7 linked regions of the Homo sapiens genome follow. The protein of the gene in region 3 purifies or fractionates together with the protein of the main gene of each other region. This does not show direct contact. Each region holds a gene or a part of one and is shown on either strand. Other genes may lie near its edges.

Region 1 (3,500 bases), on a different chromosome or scaffold from region 3:
AATGATTTATTTGAGGCCTGACTGCAAAATATACTTTCTGATATAATAAAAGGCAAAAATTCCTAATTAAAATTTTTGAAACCATGCTAAAATATATTAATATATGTTAGTATCAGGCATATTAAATGATAGTATTTAATTATGTTTGTAAAATACACTACACTTCGCAGAGCCTCAATTAGTAAATAATAGTCTATATATCCATACATCTGAAAAAGTAATACTATAAAAGTTGAATACTATAAATGGTTTATAGAAACCAATTCTATTATATAATCACACCACACATGCTCAATTTTTTCCTCATCTGATACATCTGTTGTCAACTTAAAATCGATCTAATTAAATAACTTGTTACTGGGAGGTGCTTGATTAAAAATTGTGGGGGAGAAGTCTGAATAAATGTGACCTGTTCTTCCAGACTTACAGAGTACTCACCCTATCATCTTTGGATGCTACAGTTAACAGCAAAGATTTGTAAGGCATGATATGTACACTCTGTTACATAACTGTTAGAAGCAGTAATTATTATTTCCCAAAAAGAGGGGCAGAAAAAATATTTTTGAAATACACAGAGTAGGATGGGTTGGGTGGCTCATGCCTGTAATCCCAGTACTTTGGGTGGCTGAGGCAGGCAGACTGCTTGAGCCCAGGAAACCAGGCTTGAGACCAGCCTGGGCAACATGGTGAAACTCCTTCTCTACATAAAAAAAAAAAAAAAAAAAAGATAGAAAAAGGTGCTACACATGTGTAGTTCCAGCTACTCAGGAGGCTGAGGTAGGAAGACCACCTGAGCCCTGGTAGGTTGAGGCTGCAGTGAACCAAGATCATGCCACTGCACTCCAGCCTTGGCAACAAAGTGAAAGCACCCAAATTAGGAGTGAGATTATCAATGTGGATGGGAACACTGGAAGAGGAAGATAAAGTTTGAAAGATGAACAAGTTTTGGGTAAACTGACTGAAAAGCCATAAATATTGTGGCTGAGAATGACACAAAATTTGGCTCTAGTAGAGACAAGCTAGGAAGTACTGGGAGATTAAGTGTGTAAAAGCAGAATAGTCATCAAGGTAGGCAAGGAAATTTCTACTTTACCCTGTAAGCAGCAGAAAGACCACTAGTAGTTTCTTAATAGGACATAACTAGAAAAATGATTTAGACATGATTTTGGTGGCTGTGTGTAGGATGAACTGGAAAAAAATGCATAAGGCAGGGAAATGGATGGAAGACTACTGTAATATTCAAGTAAATTGTAGTGTGATACTGGACTATAAATGGGAAAGAAATTTAGATATCTGAAACATTTCAAATGTAGAACACATAGAACTCAATGATAAAGGATAAATAAAATGGCTAGGTAAAGATGTCAGATTTCCAACTTTATCAACAGAAAGGAAATGTGGAAGGAAAGTAATTGTAGAGAATGACCATATCAAATTTAGGCATGATACAAATATACTCATACTAACACTCAGTTATACCATTCCTGAATACAGACATAAATATACTAATCTACTGACTGCTGATAGAGGCATCACATGTAAAACCTGATTAAATATTAGGGTACATAAAAAATTGAGAAGCTGATTACATATTACGCAATAGGGAACCTGATATGTATGCACAAAATTTAAAAATCTCATTCTAACAATTAATTTCAAGTTCACCAAACTCTTCTAAAACTGCACCCTGTCCTTTGTAAAGGCACTATCAAGAGGCAATGAAAGGAAGAGACCAGAAAACACGGACTTGGATAATCTCTCCCAACTAGACACAGAATTAACTTGTTTACTGATACTTTCTTAAAGTATTGCAATTTATTAACTTATAATAACTTATCCATATTGTAGACTGCCTTCAATGCAACAATATAATTTGTGCCATTGCTTTGGCGTTGAAGCCAGAAAGATAGATTGCTGTAGAAGAGTACCATGAGAGGCAGGGCTCAGTGGCTCATCCCTGTAATCCCCACCACTTTGGGAGGCCGAGGTGGATCGCATGAGACCAGGAGTTTAAGACCAGCCTAGGTAACTTTCTGATACTCCATCTCTACAAAAAATTAAAAAAAATTAGCTAGGTGAGGTGGTGCACACACTTGTAGTCCCAGCTAGTTGGGAGGTTGTGGCCAGAGGATCACTTGAGACCAGGAGTTTGAGTCTCTAGTGAGCTATGATGCCATCACTGCATTCCAGCCTGGGCACCACAGTGAGACCTTGTCTCTTTAAAAAAAAAAAAAAAAAGTACCATGAGAACATGAACAGATAGTTGGGATTACAAGCACAAGCCACCACATCCAACGTGCATGCAGTCTTCACTTTCACTGTTCTCCTGATGCAGCATAAGAAGGTATAAAAGTTTTACCTTCTTTTTGTTTATACATTGGACTACAGTACCTCCCCCTCTTTGTTCTCTTTTGATGTAAACAGAATATTTTTATAATTTTCCTAGAAGACTTCTAACAAAGTGAAGGCCTTTTGGGAATAGTAGCACCCACTAATAAAGAGAAACCAACCTATCAATCTTCAAACAAATGGAGAGAACTTCTTAGTTCAATGAATGAACACAACTGTCTTACAATGAGGAAGCTAAGAGCCAATAAATTTAGGCTGGACTGCCTTTCCTTTCTTTGCACCCAACACCAATACACTGGGTGCTGTAACTTAAAATACAAAATTATTTAAATTGGAAGTTTGGTTAGAATACTCTTATAAAATTCTTTAATAAATACTGTTTTTTACTTTAGAATACACCGACACTCAAATACTATAATAAGATAGAGTTTGACATTTCTAAGTTATTTTAGCCAATATTTAACCTTTTTGAGAAAAAAATCAAGAGTAAGTATGTCACAGGCACCAATCTTACAGAATTTGTGATACAGAGGAACTTTTAAAAATTACTACATCCAATAAAAATTAGCTTAGTTGATCTGTCAACCATGAACTGAGCAAAAAAGAAAAAGGCTTGGTTCAAGCAGTATAAAATATTTGTGAAAAATGCAAATAGTAGTTTAACAATAAGATCTGAAAGCTGGAGGGGACCTTAATCATTAGTAACAATATGTGCTACACAAATAACACTATACAAGAGTATCTAGACAACAGCAGTGCCCTTCTGTAATAGCTCCAACTCCCTTCTATTGTATTCTTTCCTTAGCAATGGGTTTGCTAAACTGCAAAACCCTCCATTAAGCCTTTGAGGGGTAGTTTTCTGATTTAGGACTGGCTTCCTGAGTTCTTTCTCTTCAGAATATTCAGAGTCAGAAATTAGACCTGTATAGTCTGGCTATATAGTCCCAAATTTTCTCTTTTCTTCCCTGTCCTGAAATTAAGCACATAAGCCCATGATATGTCAAGGTTTTATTGCTTGCCAGGAAGACAGATGGGTGCAACAAAAATAACTAATGGAGGGTTATAAAAGTTCTAAGAATTAGCCATTTAAATGTCTCAAAACTCAACTGGACATTAAGCAGAATACTGAATGGGATGATTCTCTTTAGCAA
Region 2 (3,932 bases), on a different chromosome or scaffold from region 3:
AGAAGCCACCCCTCCTTGGTCTCAGCCATTTCTAGGATAACAGAAAATGTGGACAATGAAAGGCTGGGCAGGACCAAGGGCACTAGGGGCATCAGAGGAGTCTCGCCCCATGACATCCAGGCTAGAAGAGGCCTTGGAAGTCCCCCAGCCCAGCCCTCAGCCCCTAGACGAGGCTGAGGCCCAGGTCAGGTGGCAAGTCAGTGCAGCCACCCCATGCCTGCAATGCCTCCTTTCCGTGGCTGCCAAAGGACATGACCCCCTGGGTGCGGGCACACATAGAGTTGGAGCTTTGCCCCTTGGGGGAAGGGTCTGGATGCAGTTGCCCCACACGGGCCCAGCCCCTCTCCAGAGGCTGTCCCGCTCGGCAATATCATCTCTCCTGGGGGGATTTCCTGGGCACAGGACATTGCTCAGGTCTCCAGCCTATGGGGGAGCAGACGGTTTCAGGCAGGACATGTTCCGGTGTGGAAGTGACCAGCCTAGAGTCACAGAACCCAGTGGCAGCAGAGTTGCCATCACCTACACCTCTGGTCCCCTTCAGCCACGTAGTCTGCCCCAGCATGTGTGTGTGCCTCTGTGTGCCTGGGTGGACAGGGCTCGTCTCGTACCTGTACGTGGCCACCTCCAGGCTGAGGGACATCTTGAGGTGCGCCAGCTGCTGCCGACCTTCCAGGACCTGAGCGATCTGGCTCTGTAGGCCCTGTTTCTCCTGCTCCAGGGCCTCCACAGCCAGCTGCAGGGCAGGCGAGAGGCAGTCAGTGGAGGGGCTGGGGTCCCTTCTGTGAACCAACCTGCCTCCTGCCCGCTGCCGCTGCCCGGGAAGCACCTCCTGCTCCCTGGCTGACTTATCTGTGTAGCAGACCCCCGCCTCCCCTACCCTATTCCCTGCCCAGAGAGCCCCCTCTGGATCAGCCAAGATGAGCCCAGGGCCCCTGTCAGCACTCTCAGCTCTCTCCCATGGCCTGCTCCTCCTCTGAGGATGCTGATTAAATGGTAGCACATGTTGCTCAGAACACAGCTCCCACAGGAAGGGGAGGTGAGGGAGGAGACGAGATGGGTTATGGAGAGAGAAGAGGGGGAAAAAAAAGCGAAAGCAGAAGGAAAAACGATTAATCAAGATGCCTGGAGCCTGCAGGACTGGAAGGCAAACAGCCCCCGTCCCCCGTTGGTCCCATCTCCCACAACTGTCTCCTGCTCCTCACAGCAGGCTCTCACCCCCGCCCCACCCCCATTTCCCACATGTTCTGGATTCTGTCTCCTCTGAGAGGAGGGATGGGGAGGTGGCCATGGCACCTCTGTGTGGCCCAGGCAAGAAGCTGTTTTCTCAGCTGCTGGTCACATCTGTGCCCTGTGAGAAGGAGCAGCTGTTATGGGCCTCTGGAATGTGCTCCAGGGAGCCGAGAAGCCATGACATGGGAGGGGGCTGGTAGCCATTCATTCACGGCCCCTCACTCCTCCCCTCAGGAGAAGGAGGGCTGTGAGGAACTTGGTGATTCTGAGTGGCCAGGCCACCAGATTCAGCGCAGAGGCGACAGTGCTGGGTGTCCTCCTAGTAATACCAGAGCCTGGGAAGGGACCCGGAGCCCCGGTCATCATCAGAGCCAGAAGGTGCCATCCAGAGAGTGGCGGGGCTGCTGCAACGGGTCTTGGGCCTGACTGCCCACCCGGGATGTGCTTCGAGAAGCCCCACCATTCGCATCCTACACTAGACGGGCTGTAAAAGTCTAGGACTTGTGGCACCAGGTTTCTGAGAACTGGCTCCTGATTCAGCAGCCAGCTAGCCCCACTCCCTTCCCAGAAGGTCTCTGAGCTTCATAAGGGACTTTCTGGAGCTTTCTGGGACTTTCTCTCACCCAGGCCCTCAACCTCCTCACCTGGAACTTTTCAGTAGCCCGCAGCCGCTCCTGCCAGCGGCCCTCCAACCTCTGTTCCAACGCTGCCCTGCGCTCCAGGAGGCCTCCGCGCTCAGCCTGGAGCTGCTGCAGCTCCAGGCGGCCCTCGCGGGCACCCTGCACCGCCCGGCCCAGCCGCTCGCGGGCCTGGCCCAGCGACGTCTCCATGTGTGCCACGCGCTCCTGGTAGCCGCGCACTGCCCCGCGCCACGCCTCGCCCAGTCGCCTTGCCAGCTCCTCTACCTCCGGGGCCGGCGCGGGAGGCCCGCGGGGCGGCGCGGGGCAGCGGGGGGCACAGGCAGCCTGCGCGTTCAGGCCGACGCGCTCCTCCTCGTGCGCCACGCGTAGAGCCTCTAGCTCGCGCTCCAGCTCTGCCACCTGGCTACTCAGCCAGGCCCGGGCGCATTTCTCTGCCTCGACGGCGCGCCGGTTGCGGGCTACCTCCTCCGTCGTCCGCTCCCGGGCCAGCCGCAGCTGCTGGCATCGGCCTGCCACGCCCTCCAGCTCTTCAGCCAGGTTGTCGCGCGCCACCTCGGCCGCGTGCTTCTCCCGCCAGCGTTGGTCAACGAGGGCCCGCAGGGCCGCCAGCTCGTCGTCGGCATGCGCCCGCCAGGAGGTGTCCGCGGATTGTGCCCGGAGCCCCCCGAGCTCCGCGCTGAGCAGCTCATTCTGCTCCTCCAGCGCCTTGACCCGGGCCAGGTAGGCCTCCAGGCGCCGATTGAGCTCCCACATCTGAAACGACTCCTCCCCCATGCAGCCCTCCATCCTGCTCGTCTGACCCACTGAGGATGGACAGACGCGGGGCACCGGGAGAAGGGAGCGGCTCGCAGAGCTTTTAGGACGGAAGAGAAAAGAGACCGACGGGGACAATGACGGGGCGGGGCGGGGTGGGAGTAGCCTGAGCGACTGAGAGTCGGGAGTGGGAGCGAGGCTATTCATACTCCCGCCAGGCGGGCGGGAAGAGGGGCGGGACCCAGGCCTTAACCCCTTAGAGGTCAGAGAGTGGCAGCAGCCTCTGTTCCTGCTTCCCCAGGGTGCTGGAGAGTGGAACCAAAGAAGAAGCTGTACCATGGAGAATCGGATCTGATGGTGGTGGCTTTCTGAGGGAGGAGGCTGTGAAGAAGGGTCACAATCCCCGAAAAAGGCAGATAATGCACAGAACTGAGCCTGTGGGGGTGGGAGTACCAGGACGTTCCAGCCTGGGAGGGAGTGCAGTCTCAGTTACTCAACACATCCGAGAGAGGTATCACTTACTGAATTCCTCTAAGACTCAGTTTCCTCATCCATAAAATGTGAGCAATGATGGAAATCGCATGGCTGCTGAAAAAAATGGATGTGGCCAGGTTTTTGTTTTTCGTTTTTGAAATAGCAAATGCTCCTCCTCCTGAAATACTGGAGAGAGTACTACAGCATTGCAGAAAGAAGCTAGAGAGACGCTGCCTGGAAAACAAGAACAAATGTCTGATATTAGGACACACGGATACACACACACACACACACACACACACACACGCACACACGCTATTGCCTGAGTCTCCATCAGAAAAGGGAGCGACCAGGTTAAGGGCCGTCATGGGCTTAAGAACGTTTGTCCATCCTTCCTACAAGTCTTCTGTATAACTGCGAGGTTCAAACATCCGCTTTAGGAAGTTCTGTTCTTGGGGAAGGGCCCCTTCTCCCGCACCCCCTGCCAGGGAATGTTGGGTAGTGGACGCCCTCTGGCGGCTTTCAGAAGTGGAAGCAGCAGGAAGAGGCCATTCTTTTCCTTCCTAACGACTAGCCCAAGTTTATCCAGCCTTTATGATGTGCCCAGTCGTGTTCCAATATTTTACTTCCATGATCTGACTTAATCTTCAAAACAACCTTTTAAAGATTCTACAGTTTATGAAGTAGAGAGCTCACCAAGGGTGAGAGTAGTAGGGAAGGCTTTCTGGACGGAGTGCATCCTTGAGCTGGGAGGTAAAGGACAGGTGGGATTTGGGGGATTTACAGTGAAGGAGAAGTAGGGCTGGGGAGGAGATGCAGGGATAATGAGACGGA
Region 3 (3,500 bases):
GGGATGGAGTAGTGGCTATGAGGGCTCTACCTGGGGCACAGGATTGGTTGGCATCTCTTAGAATAAGACTCACAGACACTTGCTATGCCTGGCACATGGCTGGGGCTGGGAAGATAGTGGCCGAATGAATGAATGAAGGAATGGATTATGCCTGCTTTGTGCTGCTTCCTTGAAAAAATCTGTCCTTGGGTCTGCTCACCTGGGGATCTAGAGGCAGCATGGCAGCCTCCAAATCTGCTCAACTGCACTCTATAACCAGCCCTCCCTCCTTTGCCCCCTGGGTGGAGGGAAACTGCCCACCTGGAATCTGGCTCTGTGAGCCCAGCACGGTGGCAGGTGATGAGGGTGGTGTGGTGCCTGGAGCCCTTGAAGCGGTCCAGCTTGGCAGTCCAGAGTGTGGGCTGGGCTGGGCGGGCGGCTGTCACATGCAGCCCCTTCTTCACCTTGATCCTGGGGAAGAGAGTATAGGCTCAGTTTGGCAAGGTGCATGCTGAACTGTGGGCTGGATTGAAGGGGAAAGACAAGGAGCCAAAGCCATCTGACCTCCCTGGCTCCAGTCTGAATCTCCTCTTCACCATCCTCCAACCCAGAAGGACCCCGCCTCAGTGCAGCTCACACCTTACAGCTCTCCCCCACCCAAAGACCACTTACGCCTCCCCACTGCCCATAAGGTCAAAGCTTAGCCGGGCATTTGGGGGCCCTCCAGGGTCTGGTCCAGCCTTAACTTCGGTTGTGACATCTCTCCATGCACTCTCTGCTTCAGCTACACACAAGTTTCCCACACACACGGCACCCATTCGTGACTCCAAGCCTTTGCCCAGTCTGTGCCTTCAGCCTGCTCTGCCCTTTCTTACTTTACCTGCTGATGCTTTAAGCCTCCAACAACTCACAGACCATTTCCTTTAGAAAGCTTTTCCAGTGGTGGGATGAATTTCCCCCTTACTGCACCCACTCACCTGAGCTCCCACCGCACTTTGAACCTCCCTCAGTGCTTACACACCCACATGCCTTCTAATCCAATTCATGCCCATCCAGCTCCCTTCCCTACCACTGGGGCCCCTTTCTGCCAGATAGGGACTGGCCCTTGCTCGTGTTTGGATCTGCAGAGTGAAGACACAGGGCTTGGCAGGCTGTAAGTGTCTAGGAAAGATCTGCTTAATAAGAGTGAGCATAGGAGGGCGTAGGAGATGGGGAGACACAGAGACGGGACATGCACAAACCCAGGCAGGGCTTGAAACTAGGTCTAGGTTTCAAAGCATGTCCACAGACCGCTCTTCGATCCTCAGGAAAGATATCATTACAAAGTGAGCAAGTCCCAGTGCCTCACCCTAACCAAGCCCAGGACTATCCTGCCTAGAACTCAGGCTTCTCAGAATCTTAAAGCCTAAGAGATGCCTCTCCCATGGATTCCTGCGCTGGACTCCAGAAGCAAGTCATACTCTGCAAGCCCTTGCCGGGTGAACTGGGTAGGTGGGTGGGGGCTGCTTTGGGGGAACTTATTACGGAAAAGGACACAAAGAATCAGGGCCTTCCTATGGGGAAGAGCAAGCTCTGTCCAAAGGCTAGACTCCTACGGCGAGGGTGGCAAGGAGGGACAGCATGTAGGTGAACGTGATTGGGGCAAATATCCCTCTCTGGAGCACTGGAGCAAGAGCTCACACTTAGGTACTGCAGTCTCTAAGCCCTTTGCGGGTTCCCCTCCCTGGAGACTTGCAGCTGCCCTGAAGGTGGACCGTTAGCCCCATTGGACAAAGGAATCTCAGGGAGGTGCCAGGGGAAGGGGCAGCTTCCTACTTCTGACTCTAATTCCAGGGCTGTGCCCATGGTGGGCTCCTACCAGCACAGTCATGGCTTTTTACCTGGAAGGAGTTTAGTTTGGTGGACACATGTTTTGCAGAGGTCAAGGATTCCAGCAAGGACCCCAGGAGGAGCAGGTACCTGTCCCTAGTCTTCCCACAGAGGTTCCCACCCTCACCCATCCCCGTGGCCTGGTGCTCACCGCAGGGTCAGGAGGCTGGCTGTGAAGTTGTGCCGAAGCAGGAGGGTAGCACTAAAGAGCTGGCCGGGCCGCACTGGCATGTCAGGCACCCGCAGAGTCACAGCCTCGTCCAGAGGTACCTCCTGGTACTGCGGGGGGTCTGCTGGGCGCAGCTCCACACCCCCCACTGGGAGGGCCTGCTCCCCAGGGTCGTTCTCCTCGCCGGAGCCACAGCCCCCAGGGCCCTCAGCTGCAGGCTCAAGCGTGTAGGCCAGCTCGGCCCGTGTGGTGGAGGCCTGTGAGAACCAGTGCGAGGGAAGCTCCAGCTCCACCACGCAGGCGCCCAGGGATGGCTGTGAAGACACGACAGCAGTAATTGGCATGGGGGTGGGTGCAGGGCGAGGAACAGGATTCTCAGCACCCATGGCAGGAAACCCAGAGCTGGAGGGGCTCATGAAAGGGAGGCCCAGCATGGGCCGGAGACACAGCCTGAGTGACACAGCAAACCAGCAACCTGGCTGGGGCTTCAAACCAGGTCTAGGTTTCAGAGCATGTCCGCAGACCACTCTTCAGCCCTTGGGATAGGTCTCATTACAAAGTAAGCCAATCCCAGGGCCTTACCCTAACCAAGCCCAGGACTATCCTGCCTAGAATCCAGTCTTCTTCTCAGAATCCTAAAGCTCAAGAGACGCCTCTCCCATGGATTCCTGTGCTAGACTCCAAAATAGTGGAAATAGCAATTATAAAAGTAACACTACTAATAATGCAAACACACTGGCTGATTGATTACTCTGCCGTAAGCTATCCTTACATTCATCTCACTTGTTCCTTACTCCAACTCCAGATGGGGTAGGAATTCTTAACACCCCATTCTTCAGATGAGGAAACTGAATCTCAGAGAGATTAAGTTACTTACTCAAAGTCACACACCAAGGACTGAACTCCCTCTGGGGCCCTAAATAACCTTTTCACAGCACTGAAAGCTAGTGGGGGCAGAAATGGAGTCGGGTGGTCCACAACCCCCGCGCTTCCCAGGAGTGGGGGTTTCCTCTCTGCCGCGGGCCCACCACCTGGCTGATGCAGCTGCAGCAGGACCAGCCTAGGTGGGGCCTGTCTACTCACCTGGAAGCGGCAGGCTTGGTGAGCAGTGCCGGCAGGGTGTGTGGCATGGAGCCGGGCACAGGGCAGGCTGCCAGACCCTGGTGGCCAATCCTGCCCTTTGAGGTGGAAGAGAACCCGGGCGTAGGGCTCTGCTGGAGTCACAGCCGCTTCCACTGAAACGGCCCGCACGTCCCATGGGACTGGCCGTTGGTGGGGCTCAGTGACTCGAGGGGGGACCACCTGGAGGGAGAATGAGAGGGCTTAACAAAAGAGGAGCTTGGGAGGGGAAGATCTAGGAAGATGGGATCCCAGCTTGGCAGAAGAGAACCTTTATGGGCCTCAGTTTCCCCCTCTGGAATATGGGGAGCACAGCCGGGGCTGGGGAAGGCTCCCAATTTGTACCCAGCAGACCTCAGGCCCT
Region 4 (3,500 bases), on a different chromosome or scaffold from region 3:
ATTATTCCCATTTCTAAGATGTACCTAAACTCATTTCCTTTCTTTTTTATTCATATATTTTCATAGACCCTAGATTTCTTAATTGGCTACTAGATCAAAATTATCAACATAAAATCTTTTATATCCCCTGTCCTCTCATAGTTCTAAGACTTCTTTTTCCTTATTCAAAGCATTTCTAAAATTGCTCCTCCAGGATTCGTGAGTTTTTCTTGATTAGTTAGGAGAGTAACTCCCTCCTTCAAGCATTACCTTAGAGACCTCAAAGTTAAGATTCTCAAAAATATAAGGAACTCCACTCATATCCTGAATGCTTACTATCCAAATGGAATAGTAACCTTATATGTATACATAACTCAAATAATAACCATGAATTGCCACCGGCACTCCATTAAAACACACACATGATACACGATTAAGATAAGAGCTAAATATTCTTGTTTTTCAGTTTCTCTTTTGCTATGGCGGCATGTGGATAGAGTTCAGGAACCTATATAAAACTGAGTGAAGAAAAAATGCTTTTATTAATCACAACATGAAATTAACATGACATCGTATTAGAATTAAACCAGGATAAATACTGCTGTTATAAAATTTACATTTCTCACATCCATTCCAGAGGAAAATCTTACATATTAGGGCTCATCTTAATGTTATGGACTGATTTCAGTAAAACTTTTTAAATAGTAAATAGCAATTAACGTATTCTCAAACTGTGCTAAGTAGTTAGAAAGGCAACTATAAAATCTATAATGATAACACGTGGCAGGATTAGAACTGTTCTGTTAAACATTAAGAACCACATCTCTGTTTTAGATGTTACCTCAGTGCACCTTTTTCACTGGTAAGGCAACTGCTTGCTGTGGGTGCCACAATGATTACCAAGTTTCTTCTTAAGTAAAAGACACTTGTTTGATCAAGACTCAAGTGAGTTTTCTTTCCCAATTTTGTTCTTTTGAAGCAGAAGGAAATACCTTGGTCTTTGATATATATAAGGAGGCAAATATGAAATACAGCTGTTATAATCTTCTAAATCACAAGGGCAATGAATTATTCATTTTCTTTGAAAATATTCAGTCTTTGAAATATTTCATTTTTAAAATAACAAGGCTTCTGAATAATTTCTCAAAACTAGCTTTCCATTTTAGTACACGATTTGATAAACATAGCACATTAGATAGGTATTTAGCAATTTCTTCTACCAACTACACTTTGCCCTCACTAAGGGTTAGAGTATGATTTGAAACAATTTCTACATATAAAGCATCTTTAAATAAGTTTTGTGTTCACTGAACTGAGACTTCTTTCACTTATGTACCTATGGAAGTTAATCTGAGCATACACATATATACATACTTGCATACATATGTGTACATATGTTTTTTAAGTAAGTTACTTTTACCATTAGAATAAACCTAGACACTACAGGGACAACTCTGGGGAACAGGGCGGTCTGCCTTAACAACCCTTCTCTAGGTTGAGGAAGGCAGGTATAGTTCACTGAAGGATGTGATGAGGCTGTAGTAAGTCTTCTCATCATCTGTTAATCCTGCGTTGCCTGGTCTCACCACCACAGCTACGTGCACATCTGCTTCCTCAGCAGCACTGGCCTCTGTGAAAAATCAAAGGATGTGTGTGTGTCAGAAACACCAAAAAATGATGTCTGAGATTTGCAGCAAAGTCAGCAGGGGGATGTGGGGATGGAAGAAATGAATTTGGCCCTGATTTGATGACTGTTGAAGCTAAAAGATGGGCACCCTGGGGTTGACTATATTATTATCTCTTTTATGTATGTTTTAATTTTTCCATGATAAAATTTTAAAAAATACGTAACTGTACTTGACAGAAGAGAATGGCAGTGTATCCTACACTTCTGAGCTTTATTAAGTACTTATGAATGCAGAAGGATGGAGCCATGTTCTGTCCTACACCTTTCCTCCACTTCCTCCCATCAGCCCATACCGAGAACTGAGCTGTTTCCCAAAGGACAAGCTGTTGGTAACACGAATTAAAATGATATGGGGCTGGGCACGGTGGACCCAGGAGTTCACTTGAACGCCAGACTTGAGTCCAAGAGTTCGAGACCAGCCTGGGCAACATGGTGAAACTCTATCTCTACAAAACAATACAAAAATTAGCCGGGCGTGGTGGCGTGTGCCTGTAGTCCCAGCTACTCAAGAGTGCTGAGGTGGGAGGATTGCTTAAGCCCAGGAGGTCAAGGCTGCAGCAAGCCGAGATCGCACTACTGCACTCCAGCCTGGGTGACAGAGTGAGACCCTGTATCAAAAAAATAAAAACACAAAGAAGATAATGGGACAAATGGAATCCTATGGTTTAATCAGCCCAAGATATCTGCTCTTACCTCCAGACCCTAAACATGTCATACTCCCAGCCTAGAATGGAGCAAGTTAGAGTGGGAAATGGGATACAGGCCTGTGATAAGAGAGATGGCGCTTACTAGGACAGATAGAACAAAACTGGTGAGAAATCTGGAATATATATATATAAATCCCGTGGAATTTAGATTTGGTGTAAGAGTAATCACCATTAGTTTCTCAGCCTTTGGAGAAGAGTCACAGCACCTGAACAGATTAACTGAAGGGCAGTCGTGCTGAGAGAGTTAAGTTCCCAGGAGACACACTGGGGCTGAGCTGTTTCTTCCACCCACCCACCTCCTCAAGTGCCTGCTTTCTGTTCTGCCTGTGAAAGGGCCTGTCACTTTCCCAGAGCAAACAGTACTCAAGACTCCCCTCTCTGTGTGGGAATGTCTTCTTCAGACCACCTCTGCAGATGCCATTGGAGAAAGGCAGCTATCTTCCACTCACCCCTACTTCCTAGCCTGACTGCCCTGAGCAAAGTTTTCATCGTGACTGGCAACCCGGGAATATGACCAAGTTAAGCCATCACAATCCACATGGGACTTGACACTACAAGTGGCCGTTCCATATTCAGGCTTTTTATCTAATTCACTGCAGGGCAAGTTTTATCCCTAAGCATCTATTTGCTCTACTGTTGTAATGCTGAGACACTTTTTCATACTTGGGTATTATTTGGGATTTTATTTTTTATTTTATTGTGTTTTTTCAGAAGGGTCTCTCTCTGTCGCTCAGGCTGGAGTGCAGTGGCATGATCTCGGCTCATCCCAACCTCCGCCTCCCAGGCTCAAGCAATTCTCCTGCCTCAGCCCCCAGCCGAGTAGCCAGGATTACAGGCGTGTACCACTACTGCCTGGCTAATATTTGTATTTTAGTAGACACAAGGTTTCACCATGTTGGCCAGGCTGGTCTTGAATTCCTGACCTCAAATGATCCACCCACCTTGGCCTCCCAAAGTGCTAGGATTATAGGTGTGAGTTACCGCGCCCAGCCATTATTTGGGATATTAACTTAGTTTTTCATTCTGCCTCAGCAGTGGAAGTCTGGGCATGTGGTACCAAAACAGGACCAGAGAGAAAAGAGCAAGCAGGCAGACAGCTCCCTGCCTCATCCCAGCTGCCGATGACC
Region 5 (3,500 bases), on a different chromosome or scaffold from region 3:
TAACCAGGCGTGGTGGCACGTGCCTGTAGTTCCAGCTACTCAGGAGGCTGAGACACAAGAATCGCTTGAGCCCAGGAGGCTGAGGTTGCAGTGAGCTGAGATAGCACCACTGCACTCCAACCTCAGCGACAAAGCCAGACACCATCTCAAAAAAAAAGAAAAGAAAAGAAACAAATGTTTCTAGCAAATCACATAAAATCATGGAGGGTAAGACCTAATTTGTACTGTTTTACTGGGCTGTTAACATCTAAATTTAAAATGACATAAAATAGAAAAAGAAAGGTACCTTCTTTCTCCATATACCACCCATTGAGCTTCTGCAGGAGTTTTTCAGTGCTGCTATCCCGTGAGGTCTGAAAAAGAAACAATCCTAAGTATTTCTTTATAACTGTCAAAGAGTTTTATTTAACTAAGCAAGAAATTTAACTCACCCGAACTAAATGGCCCATAGCAAATGCACAAGATTTCTGAATCACACTGTTCCGATCTGTCAGGCCACTCAGCAAAGCACTCATAAGTTTACCTACCAGAAATAAAGAGAAAAAAATCTGATACTTGGTTGACCAAATGTTCCACTCTGTTCCCAGAACCCAAACAAACCTAACCCTGTAATTAACATCTGATTTACTCCACAGTAGTTTAGATTTCTGGATGTTATATTTATATATCCATTTGCTTCCTTTTACATGATATAAAGTTAAAATTAAACTAGAATATCGTGGAAAAAGATGCAAAATAAGAACGAGGTATATAAAGAACACTAGTCCAGTCTAGAAGCCAATCTAAGAAGAGAAAAATGCTGATGTAAAATCAGCTATCAATGGTAAGTCCTGTGGAAAAGAGGATACTTTTACCTCCTTATACCACTAAGGAATAATCAAATGTTTATGAACAGTGAAAAGCTGCTAAACTTGATAAACTCTGCACCTCCTGCAGACAAAGAAATGAAGGAGTCAGGGGACTGAGGGGAGAAAAGGCACACAGCATCACAAGCAGGTCTGAATGATAAGTATTTTTCCTTTTTAAAACTCTGTCACACAAGACAGGGCTGTGCAAAAATATCACCACACATCCCTTGACAAACTCACCTGAGTAAGGTGTTAGGTCCTGAGGACACTGAGTAGTTAATGACACAATGACACTGGCACAGCCACCCTACAGGGTTACAAAAGCAAAGGTCTAAATCTGATGGTCACAATGTTCTACCTACCAAACCATTGGCTTAGGTGCCAAAAATTTAAACATATAAAATACATGAAGCCTAATACCCCCTCCAGGACTCAATATAGAAAAAGGCAAACTCTTAAACTAGTAATGCAGCGATTTTTTTTAAACCTCCAAGAGAAAGATGGGTGATCTCAGACATTGTGAAAAAGAAAGAAAACTGGTACAATCTTCTGGAAAAGCAAAATATGTCATCTTGTCCATCACTGTGCTAACATTTCCATTTCCAGAAATTTAACCAAATATCTTCAGGTGTGCCTGAAGACACTCATCACAGTGCTTTACTATTTTTTTCAAAAACTGAAAACAAATCAGATGTTCCTTGATGGAGTAAAATAAATGATGTTACATCCATACAGTGGAGTATCATACGGCCATTAGAAGAGGACACTGCAGAAGATACATGTGCAGAAAAGACTGGAAGGAAACACTTCAAAATATTAACAGCAGTTATCTCTGTATGGCAAAATTCTGGACAATTTTTATTTTAACTTTCTCCTAATCTATAAATGCTAAAATTTTAAAATACCAGCAAGTGTTAATTTTGTCATAAGAAAAAATGTGAGTTATTAATTTGTTGTTAAAAGGGTGGTAGGGGGGTGTCTGATCCTTCAAAGATCTTGAAAACTAGGACATTTTTCTATTCAAACACTGCTGACCCCTCTGTGAAAAATGCAATTGCCACCTAAAACAATCCATGCCCTAATAACTGGATGTGCATTTCCATGAACTGCTAATGAATGACAACCCAGAGGGTATGTACACGGCAACCAGAGAACAGAAATGATTCCACTAAATAAGTTAATACTTACTGGAACAGTTAGATGTTTTATTTCTTGAACCAGTTACATGTTTTCAGTTATCAGTGCAACCACAGAAATAAAATGGTTAGTGTATAATATTAGATTTTGTGGTAAAACATGAATTTCAAACATGATGGCTGTTATATCCTTATGGCCAGAACTAATGAAGATGCACATTTCCTCTTGTGGAAAGTACACTTACCTTAGTTCCAAGACCTACACCACTTCTGATCAGTTCACACAACCTAGGAACTAGCTCGCCCAGCACTGACACATCAAGGTATTGCAGGCACTTTTGAAAAAGGACAAATATAAAGGTAAGCCTTGGCAAATAAGTCAGGACCACATCTTCAATTAAAAACTGCCCTTGTCAAACGTGTACCAACTGGATTTGACATGAAGTTGAAAAATCACTGCTTGCTTCTGCTCTGATTTCAATATTAAAACCACTATTGTACTACAAACAGAAAAATTATTCATCAGTGATTCAACACTAAAAACAAACAAAAAAATGAAAAACATCAATTTGCTAAAAAAGAAAAATAATGATTACTCAAGAATGAAGAATCTTTCTGGGCCTACTTCCTCTTTATCAATCCATGTTTAGTATAAAAAACCTAAACTAAATATTGATCTTCTACAGTGGGCCTACCCTACCAAACCCCCTCTAATGAGTCAACTTCTTAGATGACTTTTCCTATAAATTGCTGGCCTTTATTTTTGAAAATGCAATTAACATGTTTTCTATTACTAATGAATATAACTAAATGGTATTCACTAACTATTCCTATTTCTTTAAATTTTTATTTCCCCCCAATAATCCAACTAAGACATAACATTCTTAGACCAAATTTTGGTAATACTCCCCCAGCAGGCACTAAAAAATAGCTACTTCTCTTCACCAGTTTAACATAGTTTTTTGTACACTTCAGTTTTTTTAGGGGTTGGATCTATACCTTCAGAGTCCTGCTAAAGGTACAGATCTGCTTAGCAAACTAATTTCCAGTAAACACAATCATAGCTAACTAACCATTACAGGGAATGCACAACAGAGTAACTTTACCAAGACTCCAGGAAGTTTAGAAATCAGAACCTCAGAATGCCAAGCAGCCCTTTACTGCAAATGCCTTCCTATGACTAAAACAACATATCGACATTGCCCAATCTCTTCACATACCTTTATGTTACCTACTTCATTAAATACCTCCACAGCTTATAACTTTCCTAGTTCCTCCCAAAGATAACTATTAGGCACAGGCACAACTCTGAACCTTTCTAAATAGGCAGATCAAAAGACTACAGATGTAAATTTATAGAGAGCTCTTGATATGTTGTTGTCTCTTGTAATACAAATTTGGACCAACTGTTTCTGGTATTTGGGGAATTATTTATTCCACTTAGTAACAGAGAAGAAAAGAGAAATATACTAAGAAAAAACTGGAGTCACAACAGCTGCTTGACTCATCCCATAAG
Region 6 (3,500 bases), on a different chromosome or scaffold from region 3:
CTAGAAACTGCTGGCAGAACTACCTGGGTAAGCAGGACCTTTCCCTGGCCACATACCTCGAGTCACTCACCGCTTGCCTCTTCCTAGGGGACCCATCCACCCCAGCCTCCTCCCTTTTATTCTGAACATCCTTACTCTGGAAGGCCCATGCCTCTCATCACCTGCTGTTCAGGTCCAGGCTAGGGTTACAAACTTTAGTTCCTGCAATGATTTTTTTTTTAATTTAAATTTTTTATTATTATTATGGTTTGGTTTTGTTTTTTTCCAGAGATGGGGTCTCACTTTGTCACCTAGGCTGGAGTGCAGTGGTGCAATCATAGCTCACTGCAGCCTCAACCTCCTGGGCTCAAGAGGTCCCCCTACCTCAGCCTCTCGAGTAGCTGGGACCACAGGCCCACACTACTGTACTTGGCTAATTTTTTTGTAGAGAAGAGGTCTCAGTTTGTTGCCCAGGCTGGTCTCAAACTCTTGGCTTCATGCGCTCTTCCTGCCTCAGCTTCTCAAAGTGTTGGGATTATAGGTGTGAGCCACCGTGCCTGGCCCCTACAATGATTTTTTTTTAAGCTGTATGTGTGTGCGTACTGTAACATGTACAGAAAGCACATAACAAACATGTACAGCTAAATGAATAATTCTAAAGTGAACCCCTTGTGCAACCATAACCTGGAGAGAAAAGCAGACATTGCCCACACTCTCATCTCCCTGCCTTCTTTTTTTTTTTTTTGAGATGGAGTTTTGCTCTTGTTGCCCAGGCTGGAGTGCAATGGTGCAATCTTGGCTCACTGCAACCTCCGCCTCCCAGGTTCAAGCAATTCTCCTGCCTCAGTCCCCCAAGTAGCTGGGATTACAGGCACCTGCCACCACACCCAGCTAATTTTTTGTATTTTTAGTAGAGACGGGGTTTCTCCATGTTGGTCAGGCTGGTCTCAAACTCCTGACCTCAGGTGATCCACCCGCCTCGGCCTCCCAAAATGCTGGGATTACAGGCATGAGCCACCGCGCCTGGCCTCCCCACCTTCTTTATGTCCTGTCTGGAACACAGCACCCCGCTCTCCCCAGTAGAGAAGTGACGCCACTAACTGGGGGTTATCACATCTTTGTTTTTGGTTTTGGTTTTTGTTTTTGAGACTGAGTTTTTTGTTTTCGTTGCCCAGGCTGGAGTGCAATGTCACGATCTCGGCTCACTGCAACCTCTTCTGCCTGCTGGGTTCAAGCAATTCTCCTGTCTCAGCCTCACTAGTAGCTGGGATTACAGGCACCCGCCACCATGCCCAGCTAATTTTTTGTATTTTTTTTTTTTTTTAGTAAAGACAAGGTTTCACCATGTTGATCAGGCTGATCTTGAACTCCTGACCTCAGGTGATCCACCCACCTCAGCCTCCCAAAGTGCTGGAATTACAGGCGTGAGCCACTGTGCCCGGCCTCACATCTTTGTTTTTTACCACCATGTTTATTATTTTATTTTATTTTATATATGTTATGTTGTTATGTTATTGATGGAGTCTGTTTCTTGTTGCCCAAGTTGGAGTGCAATGGCACGATCTCAGCTCATTGCAACCTCTGCCTCCCGGGTTCAAGTGATTCTCCTGCCTCAGCCTCCTGAGTAGCTGGGAATACAGGCGCTCGCCACCACACCCAGCTAATTTTTTTTTTTTTTTTTTTTTGAGACGGAGTCTCGCTTTGTCGCCCAGGTTGGAGTGCAGTGGTGCAATCTCGACTCACTGCAACCTCCGCCTCCCAGCTTCAAGCACTTCTCTGCCTCAGCCTGCCGAGTAGCTGGGATTACAGTCGCCTGCCACCATGCCTGGCTAATTTTTTTTTTTTGTATTTTTAGTAGAGACAGGGTTTTACCATCTTGGCCAGGCTGGTCTTAAACTCCTGACCTCGTGATCCACCCCCCTCAGCCTCCCAAAGTGCTGAGATTACAGGTGTAAGCCACCATGCCTGGCCAATTTTATTTATTTATTTGAGACAGAGTCTCGCTCTGTTGCCCAGGCTGGAGTGCAGTGGTACAACCTTGGCTCACTGCAACCTCCGCCTCCCGGGTTTAAGCAATTCTCCTGCCTCAGCTTCCTGAGTAGCTGGGACTACAGGCGCGTGCCACCATGCCCGGCTAATTTTTTGTGTTTTTAGTAGAGACAGGATTTCACCATGTTGGCCAGGCTGGTCTCGATCTCCTGACCTCATGATCTGCCTGCCTCGGCCTCCCAAAGTGCTGAGATTACAGGCGTGAGCCACCGTGCCTGGCCAATTTTTTGTATTTTTTTTTTTTTTTTGAGATGGAGTCTCGCTCTGTCGCCCAGGCTGGAGTGCAGTGGCGTGATCTCGGCTCCCTGCAAGCTCCGCCTCCTGGGTTCACACCATTCTCCTGCCTCAGCCTCCCGAGTAGCTGGGACTACAGGTGCCCGCCACCGCGCCCAGCTAATTTTTTGTATTTTTAGTAGAGATGGGGTTTCACCGTGGTCTCTATCTCCTGACCTCGTGATCTGCCTGCCTCGGCCTCCCAAAGTGCTGGGATTACAGGCATGAGCCACTAGGTCCAGCCACTTTTTTGTATTTTTAATAGAGACAGGGCTTCACCATGTTGTCCAGGCTGGTCTCGAACTCCTACCCTCAAGTGATCCACCTGCCTTAGCTTCCCAAAGTGCTGGGATTACAGGCCTGAGCCACCATGCCCGGCTACCACCGTGTTTAGATTCACCTCTTTGTGAACTTTATACATACTGTGTGTATTCTTTTGTGTTTGGATTTTTTCATTCAGTACCTTCTCAGATCCATACATGCTGTGGCATATAGCTTGCTCATTTTCATTGCTGTCCAGTTTTCTACAATTTATTCTATGCCTGTACACTTGTGTGATTTCCATTTTGGAGTTCTTACAAATGGTGTGGCTGTAAACATCTTTATAAATGTAATTTTGCTGGGTGCAGTGGCTCACGCCTGTAATCCTAGCACTTTGGGAGGCCGAGGTGGGCAGATCAAGACCAGCCTGGCCAACATGGCGAAACCCTGTCTCTACTAAAAATACAAAAATTAGCTGGGCATGGTGGCAGGTGCCTGTAATCCCAGCTACTTGAGAGGCTGAGGCAGGAGAATCACTTGAACCCAGGAGGAGGTAGAGGTTGCAGTGAGCTGAGATCGCACCACTGCACTCCAGCCTGAGTGACAGATTGAGACCCTACCTCAAAAAAAAAAAAAAATGTGTTCCAACTCTTGATCTGGGCTGACTTGAACCCCTTTCTTCACAGACTTCCACCGCTGTCAGAAGGCAATGACCGCTAAAGGAGGCGATATCTCTGTGTGCGAATGGTACCAGCGTGTGTACCAGTCCCTCTGCCCCACATCCTGGGTATGTGCCTCCTGCCAGGGCCCTTGGGATGCTGGGGTGGGGTCTTAGCAGAGGGGAGTGTGGTGGCTTGGTGGGAGCTCATCTGTGAGGGGCAGAGGGAGGACAGGGCACCACACTGTCCCAGGACTCAGTGCCTTTCCTCCCGCCTAGA
Region 7 (3,477 bases), on a different chromosome or scaffold from region 3:
GCCTGTAATCCCAGCACTTTGGGAGGCCGAGGTGGGAGGATCAGTTGAGGCCAAGAATTCAAGACCAGCCTTGGCAACAACATAGCAAGATCCCATCTCTACAGAAAAATTAAAAATTAGCTGGGTGTGGTGGTGTGAGCCTATAGTCCCAGCTACTCAGGAGGCGGAGGTGGGAGGATCACTTGGGCCCAGAAGTTCAAGGCTGTAGTGAGCTATGATTGCATTGCTGCATGCCAGCCTGGGTGACAAGGTGAGACCCTGTCTCAAAATTTAAAAACCACCCAAACTGGACCTCAGAGGACCCTTGCTCTTGGGCATTAGAACATTTGCATAGCAGGGTGTAAATAACAGTAGAGGTGAGCCCAAGCTGGTGAGCCTGGAGCTCCCATCTCCTACCATTACCTGGTCTAATTGGTATTCCTTTGCACCCACCTGTGCCTGCTGCACGCCCGGGGCAGCCTGCCCAGCCACTTGCCACAAAGCATTCCTGCAGAGGCCTCTCACCACTCACATTTTATTGAGAACAGTGGGCAGGGGGGCTGGGAGAGGAGTGCTGACCGTTGTGAAGGAGTAAGAACCCAATGGGTAAGGGGCCAGACAGGTTTCACCTGGCTCCATGGTCCAGGAAAGGGCCTGTGGGGTGGGCACCTGCCCTCTCTGGGATCCCTCAGCAGGAGAATGCAGCAGGCTCCTCCAGGAAAGGGAGGCATTGGGAGTGATGGGTTGTAATTCCCATAGCATCCAACCCAAGAGTGAGAGGGGTGGTGCTAATCTGGGGGTAGGAGGGGACAAGACAGGGCTACTCTCGAAGTATCTAGCCCAGCTCCTCGAGGTTTCTGGAAGACTTCAATGTTAGTCTGTGGAGACCCTAAAGATGGAGATTGAGGCCAGGAGAGCCCCTCACTGACCCATTTTAACTGGCCCCAGGAATACCAGAGCATCCTAATCTAAGGAGCGCAGGCCTGTCAAGCCCCAGGTCTCAGCCATGCTGCTGAGTGCTCATTGGGAAGCAGGTGTGAGAAAGGGTGATGACCCACTATGTGTCCCTCCTGAGGAAGGCAGAGGCCTTTTCCATACTCCATAAGGCCAGCCACTGTGCCAGGTCCTGAGAGGCAAGGCACGAGTCTGGGGGAGGGGTTAATCTCCACTTCCCCAGATGTCCAAATGGGGGTGTGGGTGGGGGAAGTAATCCCCCTGGTCCAGCATTCCCAGGAGACAGCCTCAGGGAAGGGGCTCAGGATGCCCAGATCCTCCTGCCCGCCTCTGCTTGCTGGGCCAGTGGTCAAGCAGTTGCCTTACCAGCCACAGCTGTGGTGGGGGGAGGTGAGGACGCCTCACCACCTCCCATCTCTGCTTCAATGAACTCGGTCTTTCTTTTACCCCTCAAAAGAAATCAACAGCAAGTTGAGAGGGGAGAAGCCTCAGGTGAAGGGGTGAGTATGGGCCGTGGGGCCGAGGGGAAGAAACACTGTTAGGCCCTGGCCCTGATTCCAGCCCCTCAAACCCTAGAGTGGAGGAACCTCAAGGGGAGGCCAGTTGTGAAAGGCTCAGTGCCAGTGCAGAGTCTGAGCCAACTCAGCAGCAGTGTCCAGGGCATGAGGTCTGGTGGGGGTTGGGGCCAGAGATCCAGGCTCTCTCCTACCCTCTAGCAGAGAGGGCTGGAATGGGGAAAGCAGGCAATGGGAGTGGGAAGTTCCCTCCAAGCCACTTCTCTGGGGGAAGAGCCCCCTTTTCTGGCAGGGTCTAGGGCAGGGCCCTTTCTGGGCAGGGCAACATCACACATCAGTCATCTCATCCCCCAGCTCTGCATCTTCTGGCTCTCCTTCCTCCTCCTCCTCCTCTTCCTCTTCCTCTTCTGAGGTCACATTGGGTTCATCAGCCTCTGCCAGGCATTTGGGACAGGAACAGACAAATAGATAGTTCTCCCTGCAGCGGTGGGGGATGGTGAGGGGGAAAAGTCAGGGAGCTATGGGTAGAGGACCCCAGAGCCCAGCTGCACAACCATGTCCCCAGCTGGCACCTGAGGATCTTGTGGCGGCTGTGGCGGCTGCGCTCCCGCTGACAGCAGTCCAAGTAGCTGATACAAATTTCCTGTAGGGCAGAGAAGTGCAGTCTGATGGTCTGTGCTCTTTTAAATGGCATAAGGACCTCCCCAACAGCTACCCTATCTCCAACCACTGCCCCATCTCTAGGAGCCAAGTTTGCGTTGCCCTTCAGTGAAGGGGCTGGCTGCCCTCATCCAGTTCCCAGTGCCTTCAGTAGGCAGGCCACTATAAGGCTCCAACAGCCTGTGCCTGAGACAGAGGAGACTGGTTGGCCTCAGGCCGTGGTGAAAGCCAGTCAATGGCCAAGGTCTGCAGCTGGGATCAGAGGTCTTGGTATGATGCTACTTGCCCTCAAGAAGATTCAACCAGGCACTGTGCCTGCACTAACAGACAAGACCCTAAACCCACAAAGAGCTATCTCCTGCTTTCTTAGAAATTACATATCTGCATTTGACCAAAAGATAGCTGGGGACAAGAATCTGAGCACATAGGTGTCCCTCAAACACTGTCCTGAGGCTTTCTGGAGTCATATTTTGAAAAAGCGAGGTAGGGTTAGAACCTAACCATGAGCTGAAAGACTCAGACCCTAAGGTATGTGGGGATTCCACCCAACAGCCTGAACTTCAAGGTGCTCTAGCCACTGCTGCTCCTGATCCCTGCAGAGAACTTCCAAGGCCTACTGCCCACCCATCCCGACGGTTCCTGGTCCCCCTCACCTCTCCTGGCTTAATATCCTCCAGAGCAGTGACATGCAAAAGGAAGTTGTTTTCTGGAAAGGAGGTCTCTGCATTGGGCACACAACTGTGGTTGCCTGGATCATAAGAGGCAGGTAATGAGGATTATTGACTAAAAAAAATAATAGCCTCAATTCTGCAGAGCACTGGGTCCTTTCTTGCTCGTTCATCCCTGCCAAGGCTGAGCACGTTTTGGAACCCAAGTTTCTGGACTCTGCATCCAGTGTTCTTTCCTGAAGACCATATAGCACAGCACAAATGAACTCCACAGCACTCCCACTCCAACTCGCTGTGACTGGCCAACTTCATTCTCAGTCGTGTTCCCACTGTCTCGCAAAGGGAGGGACAGGGCTCTGAAGGAATGCCCACCCCAGACCACTTAACTCAGTTCTGCCTGCTATTGGACATCTAGTAACAGCTGACACAGGCCCTCTGAGAATCCAGTTTGGGAGGGTAGAGTGGCCCTGGAGCCTGGGAGGAGGAGTTTGCAGTGAGGAAACCAGGGGGTGGGAAGCTGAGGTCTGGAAAAGGCAGTTGTCTGAGCTGAATCTGCCCCTTCTCATCAGGTGCTGATGAGACTCGCCCTGTAGCCTGGGCTCCCAGTACTCCCAAATCTCACAAGGCAGTGACGGTGCAAAGCCCATGCATCCCTTTGCAAGAATCAGAGCTCTATGCCTGCCTTAGTACAGGGCCTGGCC

The links.
Region 1: the proteins of TMEM132A (region 3) and SEC62 purify together in Homo sapiens (affinity purification with mass spectrometry; one large-scale study listed by BioGRID and IntAct). This does not show direct contact.
Region 2: the proteins of TMEM132A (region 3) and NES purify together in Homo sapiens (affinity purification with mass spectrometry; one large-scale study listed by BioGRID and IntAct). This does not show direct contact.
Region 4: the proteins of TMEM132A (region 3) and ENOPH1 purify together in Homo sapiens (affinity purification with mass spectrometry; one large-scale study listed by BioGRID and IntAct). This does not show direct contact.
Region 5: the proteins of TMEM132A (region 3) and ECPAS purify together in Homo sapiens (affinity purification with mass spectrometry; one large-scale study listed by BioGRID and IntAct). This does not show direct contact.
Region 6: the proteins of TMEM132A (region 3) and COX6B1 purify together in Homo sapiens (affinity purification with mass spectrometry; one large-scale study listed by BioGRID and IntAct). This does not show direct contact.
Region 7: the proteins of TMEM132A (region 3) and SMYD5 purify together in Homo sapiens (affinity purification with mass spectrometry; one large-scale study listed by BioGRID and IntAct). This does not show direct contact.

What each region holds. Positions count from the first base shown.
Region 1 is NC_000003.12:169,969,807-169,973,306, reverse strand, and holds part of SEC62 (translocation protein SEC62), read right to left. Parts: intron 1-3,500. UniProt on the Homo sapiens protein: Mediates post-translational transport of precursor polypeptides across endoplasmic reticulum (ER). Proposed to act as a targeting receptor for small presecretory proteins containing short and apolar signal peptides.
Region 2 is NC_000001.11:156,674,608-156,678,539, forward strand, and holds the start of NES (nestin), read right to left. Parts: upstream 2,801-3,932; 5' UTR 2,658-2,800; coding exon 1,875-2,657; intron 734-1,874; coding exon 609-733; intron 1-608. UniProt on the Homo sapiens protein: Required for brain and eye development.
Region 3 is NC_000011.10:60,927,460-60,930,959, reverse strand, and holds part of TMEM132A (transmembrane protein 132A isoform b precursor), read right to left. Parts: intron 3,320-3,500; coding exon 3,101-3,319; intron 2,332-3,100; coding exon 2,000-2,331; intron 451-1,999; coding exon 301-450; intron 1-300. UniProt on the Homo sapiens protein: May play a role in embryonic and postnatal development of the brain. Increased resistance to cell death induced by serum starvation in cultured cells. Regulates cAMP-induced GFAP gene expression via STAT3 phosphorylation.
Region 4 is NC_000004.12:82,458,090-82,461,589, reverse strand, and holds the end of ENOPH1 (enolase-phosphatase E1), read right to left. Parts: intron 1,610-3,500; coding exon 1,470-1,609; 3' UTR 413-1,469; downstream 1-412. UniProt on the Homo sapiens protein: Bifunctional enzyme that catalyzes the enolization of 2,3-diketo-5-methylthiopentyl-1-phosphate (DK-MTP-1-P) into the intermediate 2-hydroxy-3-keto-5-methylthiopentenyl-1-phosphate (HK-MTPenyl-1-P), which is then dephosphorylated to form the acireductone 1,2-dihydroxy-3-keto-5-methylthiopentene (DHK-MTPene).
Region 5 is NC_000009.12:111,372,884-111,376,383, forward strand, and holds part of ECPAS (proteasome adapter and scaffold protein ECM29), read right to left. Parts: intron 2,320-3,500; coding exon 2,230-2,319; intron 1,156-2,229; coding exon 1,089-1,155; intron 524-1,088; coding exon 432-523; intron 354-431; coding exon 287-353; intron 1-286. UniProt on the Homo sapiens protein: Adapter/scaffolding protein that binds to the 26S proteasome, motor proteins and other compartment specific proteins. May couple the proteasome to different compartments including endosome, endoplasmic reticulum and centrosome.
Region 6 is NC_000019.10:35,651,323-35,654,822, forward strand, and holds part of COX6B1 (cytochrome c oxidase subunit 6B1), read left to right. Parts: coding exon 1-27; intron 28-3,248; coding exon 3,249-3,349; intron 3,350-3,500. UniProt on the Homo sapiens protein: Component of the cytochrome c oxidase, the last enzyme in the mitochondrial electron transport chain which drives oxidative phosphorylation.
Region 7 is NC_000002.12:73,224,245-73,227,721, reverse strand, and holds the end of SMYD5 (protein-lysine N-trimethyltransferase SMYD5), read right to left. Parts: intron 2,857-3,477; coding exon 2,762-2,856; intron 2,092-2,761; coding exon 2,021-2,091; intron 1,927-2,020; coding exon 1,776-1,926; 3' UTR 501-1,775; downstream 1-500. UniProt on the Homo sapiens protein: Protein-lysine N-trimethyltransferase that specifically catalyzes trimethylation of 'Lys-22' of the RPL40/eL40 subunit of the 60S ribosome, thereby promoting translation elongation and protein synthesis.